Homo sapiens: one gene and its partner. The protein of the gene in region 1 interacts with the protein of each later gene in a pairwise test. Each region holds a gene or a part of one and is shown on either strand. Other genes may lie near its edges.

Region 1 (3,671 bases):
AGTGAGATTCCATCTCAAAACAAAAACAAAAACGAAAAAACCTTAAAATTTTTTTTCTTTAAAGGTATACACACAAATATAGTTCTTTCATATTCTCATGTGATGTTTGCAAATTGCTTGTTAGAACGAACAGCAGTAGTATGGAACATAAATCCCACACCTCAGTGGTGTTTTTTTTTTTTTTTTTTTTTGAGACAGAGTCTTACTCTGTTGCCCACGCAGGAGTGCAGTGGCACAATCTCTGCTCACTGCAACCTCCGCCTCCCAGGTCCAAGCCATTATCCTGCCTCAGCCTCCCAACTAGCTGGGATTACTGGTGTGCACCACTGTGCCTGGCTAATGTTTGTATTTTTAGTAGAGACGGGGTTTCACCATGTTGCCCAGGCTGGTTACAAACTCCTGAGTTCAAGTGATCCACTCACCTCAGCTTCTCAAAGTGCTGGGATTATAGACGTGAGCCACTGCGCCTGGCCTCAATGGTTTCTTTACATACCAATACTCTAGATATTAAACTACTTTTGTATTGGCCAGAGATAAAATAGATTAAATTATGTGTTGTATTGAATAACACCTGAATCAACAGTTAATACTGGCAAGTTGGAGGAGCCGTGATTTTTTTTTTAAAGTCATACTTCTTCTCTAAGCAACTTTAAATTGCTAGGGTTTTTAAAGAATATTGGGCCAAGCAAGGTGGCTCATGCCTGTAATCCCAGCACTTTGGGAGGCCAAGTTTTCTTTTTTTAATATATATTTTTTCTTTTTTTTTTTTTTTTTTTTTTTTGCTACCTTTGGATTCTTGATAGTGAGCTTCCAATAATTATTTCTTAACAGCATTTAAGTCTGATTTACACATCATACTTTATACCAGCAGCAGGGCTGGTTATGCCTGTACTAATATTCAGACATATATTGAAAAACTAGCCTTGTCTTTTTCTACTGTGTAAAAACCTTTATTGTCAATACATTTTACTTGTACTTAAGCTAAATTTTTTTTCTTTTTTTTTTTGAGATGGAGTCTCACTCTGTCACCCAGGCTGGAGCGCAGTGGTGCAGTCTCAGCTCACTGCAACTTCCGCCTTCTGGGTTCAAGTGATTCTCCTGCCTCAGCCTCCTGAGTAGCTGGGACTACAGGCATGAACCACCATGCCCAAGAAAGGAGGATCATTTGGAAAAAATATATATATATTATCTGATGGCCCACATCTGTGGTCCCAGCTACTTGGGAGGCTGACATGGGACGACTGCTTGAGCCCTGGAGGTTGTGGCTGCAGTGAGCTGTTATCAACTGCTGCACTCCAGCCTGGGCAAGAGAGTGAGAGGCCATCTGAAAGAAAAAAAAAAAAAAGGCAAGAATATACATCTATCTGTTTTCAGTTTAAAATAAAACATTTAAGTCTATATATGTTTTTTTCTTTTTTTTTGAGACAGAGTTTCACTCTGTTGCCCAGGCTAGAGTGCAATGGCATGATCTCTGCTCACTGCATCCTCTACCTCCCAGGTTCAAGTGATTCTCCTGCCTCAGCCTCCCAAGTGTCTGGTATTACAGGCACCCACCATCATGCCTGGCTAATTTTTGTATTTTGGTAGAGATGGAGGTTTCACCGTGTTGGCCAGGTTGGTCTTAAAGTCCTGACCTCAGGTGATCCACCCGCCTTGGCCTCCCAAAGTGCTGGGATTACAGGCATGAGCCATCTCGCCCGGCCTATATATATGTTTTTCTGATTCCTTCTTTAAGTTTTAGTTAATTGACTAATTACCAGCCTTGATCACGTTGGATTCCTCTGTATCTCTGCCATTTATCTTTTGAAAATTAAAAACACAAAACGAGTAAAAATTCCAAGAGGATGGAAATCATTTTTAACCCAGCTTTGTTTCCTGTCCCTCAACATTTGCCAAATTGTATTATGCAAAGTAGGTAGTTAGATTTCTGCTCAAATAATTTTCACTTTGGTTCTTAATATAACACCAAATACTGGCTGGGTGCGGTGGCTCATGCCTGTAATCCCAGCACTTTGGGAGGCTGAGGCCAGCGGATCACCTGAGGTCAGGAGTTTGAGACCAGCCTGTCCAACGTGGTGAAACCCCATCTCTACTGAAAATACAAAACTAGCCAGGCATGGTGGTGCATGCCTGTAGTCCCAGCTACCCAGGAGGCTGAGGCAGGAGAATAGCTGGAACCCAGGAGGCAGAGGTTGCAGTGAGCCAAGATTGCGCCACTGCACTCCAGCCTGAGCAACAGACTGAGGCTCCGTCTCAAAAAAAAAAAATAAAATAAATAAATAAATAAATAGACCAAATACTATATTTTTACTTTTTCCTCCGCAAGCATGTAAATCGTAATTTTACTTACAAGTGACTAAATGTCAAGAAATAAAGAAGCACACAGTTGCACAATTTGTGAGAAATAAGAATTTGGTGTTTCAGTGAGATTATCATAGAACTAGAATTTGACACGATATTTTCTTTTTTTCTTTTTTTTTTTTTTTGAGACAGAGTCTCTCTCTGTCGCCCAGGCTGGAGTGCCATGGCACGATCTTGGCTCACTGCAAGCTCTGCCTCACAGGTTCATGACATTTTCCTGCCTCAGCCTCCCAAGTAGCTGGGACTACAGGTACCCGCCACCGCGCCCAGCTAATTTTTTGTATTTTTATTAGAGACAGGGTTTCACCGTGATAGCCAGGATGGTCTGGATCTCCTGACCTCTGATCTGCCTGCCTCGGCCTCCCAAAGTGCTGGGATTACAGGTGTGAGCCACCACACCTGACCAACACGATGATATTTTCAGTTTTATTTCTAGTTATGTAATTTTCTCTATATGGGAAACTACAACTTATACATTACTGATATTCATAATATAGTGTAGCTGATCGCTCTAATTGTAACTGTATTCCCAAGATAGTGTTTATTCTAGAATTATGCTCTGTACATTTGTTCTGGAAATGACAACCATCATGAGTTTTTTAATGCCCAAAGGAGAGTACAGTAAACCCTCTGTATCCCTGAGTTCCACATTGAGCATTTAAGCACCTGTGGATTGAGACTATTCAGAAAGGGCTGGGTGTGGTGGCTCACACCTACAATCCCAGGACCTTGGGAGGCCGAGGCGAGCAGATTGCCCGTGTTCAGGAGCTCAAGACCAGCCTGGACAACATGGCGAGACCCCATCTCTACAAAAAATACAGAAATTAGCCGGGTGTGGTGGTACGTGCCTGTAGTCCCAGCTACTTGGGGGCACTAAGGCAGGAGGCCCTCCTTGAGCCCCAGGAGGTTGAGGCTGCAGTGAGCCGTGGTCTCACCATTGCACTCCAGCAGCCTGGGTGGCAGAGCAAGACCAAGAAGAGCAACACCCTGTCGGCCGGGCACGGTGGCTCACGCTTGTAATCCCAGAACTTTGGCAGGCTGAGGCGGGCGGATCATGAGGTCAGGAGATCGGGACCATCCTGGCTAACATGGTGAAACCCCGTCTCTACTAAAAAATACAAAAAATTAGCCAGGCGTGGTGGCAGGCACCTGTAGTCCCAGCTACTCGGGAGGCTGAAGCAGGAGAATGGCATGAACCTGGGAGGCAGAGCTTGCAGTGAGCCGAGATCATGCCACTGCACTCCAGCCTGGGCAACAGAGCGAGACTCTGTCTCAAAAAAAAAAAAGAAGAGCAACACCCTGTCTCTTAA
Region 2 (3,671 bases), on another chromosome or scaffold:
AACACTTAGTATTGGGTAATTTATTTCAAATAAGATTATAATCAGCCTATCAACAAATGAGGCAATATGTAAAAGTGATTAACTGAACTAATAAATTTTTTTATGCTTAGGTCCAGTAAGTCCCAAGACTTTTAGAGAGAATGCAGTATGGTAAAACTGAAATAATACCTCTCAAGAAGACAGATACTTGGGTTCTAGAGGATCCACTCACAATCAACAAGTCTCGATTTCCATAGTCCTTAGATCCCTCAAATATAAATTAGGAAAATTATTTTACCTGCCTGAAGTTGAGACCAAACTAAATAATCTCTTGAATAGTATGATTCTATAAGTGACTGAAAGTGCAATCTTGCTTCTGAAATTTGAGCTACTGTCAAAAGCGCTCAGCAACATTGTGAACTGAGCATATGGCCTTAACTCCAGGGTGCATGGGTAGGCTGGGGTAAAGAAAAGACAGAAAAATTAAAAGCCCAGGCCCGTGCCACTTATGGGAGTGGGGCCTGAGTTTATGCAACCCATGCAGAATGAAAATTCCAAGGTGAAAAAATAGTATGAACTCAAATATCTATAAGAATTAATGAACACTAAAGATAATACTTCAAGTATTAGGAAAAAGGGATTATTCCCCTGTTGGGGAAACATGTTGGGACAACTAGATAACCTTCTGTTAAAAAACACAACCCCTTGGGAGGCCAAGGCGGGTAGATCACGAGGTCAGGAGTTTGAGACCAACCTGGCCAAGATGGTGAAACCCTGTCTCTTATACTAAAAATATAAAAATTAGCCGGGCACGGTGGTGGGCGCCTGTAATCCCGGTTACTCAAGAGGCTGAGGCAGGAGAATCGCTTGAACCCGGGATACGCAGGTTGCAGTGAGCCGAGATGGCGCCACTGCACTCTAGCCTGGGTGACAGAGCAAGATTCCTTCTCAAAAACAAACAAACACCCACCACCCCACCAAATTTGGACTCTAATTTCACATCTTAAAGCAAAATCAATTTCAAATGGAACTAAAAAACTGAGACCACAGAAGTACTAAAAAAACTACAGATTTTTAAAAACAATTTTAAGTGCATAAAGTCTTTAAATATAATACATAACTTAGCAGCTATAAAAGAAAAGATAAATTTGAATACATAAAACCAAAACTTTGTGTGGTTCAAAAAAACACCATAAATAAGTAAAAGGACAAACTAGAAAAAATATTTGCGGCAAAGGCTGATTTACTTTATAAAGAACACCTAAAATCTGTACGATCAATATGATGATTGAAAAACTGCAGCAGGGCTGGGCGCAGTGGCTCATGCCTGTAATCTCAGCACTTTGGGAGGCTGAGGTGGGCGGATTGCCCGAGGTCAGGAGTTCGAGACCAGACTGACCAACATGGAGAAACCCCGTCTCTACTAAAAATACAAAATTAGCTGGGTGTCGTGGCGCATGCCTGCAATCCCAGCTACTCGGGAGGCTGAGGCAGGAGAATCGCTTGAACCCAGCAGGCAGAGGTTGCAGTGAGCCGAGATTGCATCATTGCACTCCAGCCTGGGCAACAAGAGTGAAACTCTGTCTCAAAAAAAAAAAAAGAGAAAAACTGTGGCAAAGGATATATGAATAAACAATTTGTAGAAAAGGCATCATAAATGACTCAACTTTTTAAAAAGAAGTCCAACCTCATTAAGTAAATGAGAAATGTAAATTTAAACAAATATTGAGATACCATTTTAACCTCTCAAGAGTGACAAAGACCAAGAAGCTTAATACCACGTTTTTGGCAAGAAGTGAGAAACAGGCATTTTCATCAAGTGTAAATTGGTCCAACCTCTCTGAAGGGCAGTTTAGAAACAAGAATCCAAATTAAAAATATCCATACCCCAAGCCTCGGTAATTTTATTTCCAGGAATTTACTTTATAATCATAATTTTACACACATGTGTAAAATGACATGTACATATTTATTGCAGCATCATGCAATAACAGGAGACTGAAAACAAATGTTAACAGTGGACTGTTAAATTATGACTTATTCATAAAATAGAATATTATGCATGTATTCAAAAGAATAAGATGGCTCTCTATACTGATGTCAAAGGCTCTTGTGATATTAAAATATTGTGAAGGGTATGCATAGTATACTATAATTAGTGTGGGGGGAAAGGAAGATATCCACATGCTTGTACTTGCACCCAAAATAGCTCTAGAACAATACGTAGACTGGTGCTTTGCTGCTATGGAAGGGAACATGGTGGCTGGGACTAGTTGTGGGAAGTAGACTTATTTTTCACTGTATATCCTTTTGAATTTTCTATTTTGAGCATGTATTACTTAATTTAAAAAATCATTGTTTTAACTTACGTGAGGCCCTATTTTGCAACATACCCAAAGCACTTTACCTCTTTCACAACTTAGGGCTCATGGAATTTTACAGGAAATACTCCAAAATTAAAAAAAGTAACTACTGAAGATAATAAGTTCACAATAAAAAATATAAACTACATGAAGAAACAAACCATCATGGAGGAGTGGGCACATATAACAGATACAGAAGCAGATTAAAGAACTAAAGTAAATTTGCTTAAAATTATTAAGAAATGGTACAAAAGGAAAGATTAAGAGACATTAAGAATAGAATGAAAACCTAATGTATATCTATTAACAGTTCCAGAGGAAGGAACAGAGATAATGGAAGAGGCAATAAGTAACAGCAAATTTTCTGGGAAAAAAAAAAAAAAAAAAAAAAGGACAATATATCCACAGACTTGAGTAGAGTTTGGTACATGGTAAATAAAATCAAATCCATACCTGGACAAATCCTAGTAAAATAGCAAAACCCCAAAGACAAAAAGATCTCAACTACAACCAAAAGGAAGAAAAAGATTAATAAAAGTAAAGAGAAACTACAAGCCGACTCCTCACCAACAAGTGGAAGACAGTGGCATAACGCTACTCAAGAGTTGAGGTATAATAAGGTCAATTTACATTTTTTTTTGAGACAGGGTCTTGCTCTGTCACCCAGGTTGAGTGCAGTGGTGTTATCAAGGCTCATTGATCTTCTGGGCTCAAGCGATCTTAATACCTCAGACTCTTGAGTAGCTGGGGCCACAGGTGCATGTCACTATGCCTAGCTAATTTTTTATATTTTTGTAAGAGACAGAGTCTCGCCATATTGCCCAGGCTAGTCTTGAACTGCTGGGCTCAAGCAGTCCTCCCACCTTGGTCTCCCAAAAATGGTAGGATTATAGGCATGAGCCACTGCGCCTGGCCCAATCTACAATTTTATATTCTAAACCCAAACTATTATTCCTGAGTGAGGAAAAATAAAAAATTTTTTCCTGCCAGTGAAAAACTATAGGACACACCTCACTAAAATAAAAAGTGAACCCCAAAGAAATGAGATGCAAGAAACAACAGTGAATTAAAAAAATGATAACCATGTTAGTAAATTTAAACAAGGACTATATTAAAAAGATAATAATTTCATCAATTTTGGGGTGGAGTTTGAAAAAACAAAGTGAAGCTAAAGTCTAATAGTGATACTGTGGAAAACAGGATGGGGGAGGAATCAGAGTTAAAGCTTTCTAACCAGGGCCTCAACATATGACTATGTACAACGCAGGGGATACTATCCATATTTGTAGTCATGGCAGTTTTGCTTATTTATTAAGAAATAATCTGTCA

Evidence for each region. The genes of interacting proteins can lie anywhere in the genome.
Region 2: the proteins of UBXN8 (region 1) and PGRMC2 interact in binary tests that used the Homo sapiens proteins (3 or more experiments, as listed by UniProt).

Annotation. Positions count from the first base shown.
Region 1 is NC_000008.11:30,747,138-30,750,808, forward strand, and holds part of UBXN8 (UBX domain-containing protein 8), read left to right. Parts: intron 1-3,671. UniProt on the Homo sapiens protein: Involved in endoplasmic reticulum-associated degradation (ERAD) for misfolded lumenal proteins, possibly by tethering VCP to the endoplasmic reticulum membrane. May play a role in reproduction.
Region 2 is NC_000004.12:128,277,643-128,281,313, forward strand, and holds part of PGRMC2 (membrane-associated progesterone receptor component 2), read right to left. Parts: intron 1-3,671. UniProt on the Homo sapiens protein: Required for the maintenance of uterine histoarchitecture and normal female reproductive lifespan. May serve as a universal non-classical progesterone receptor in the uterus.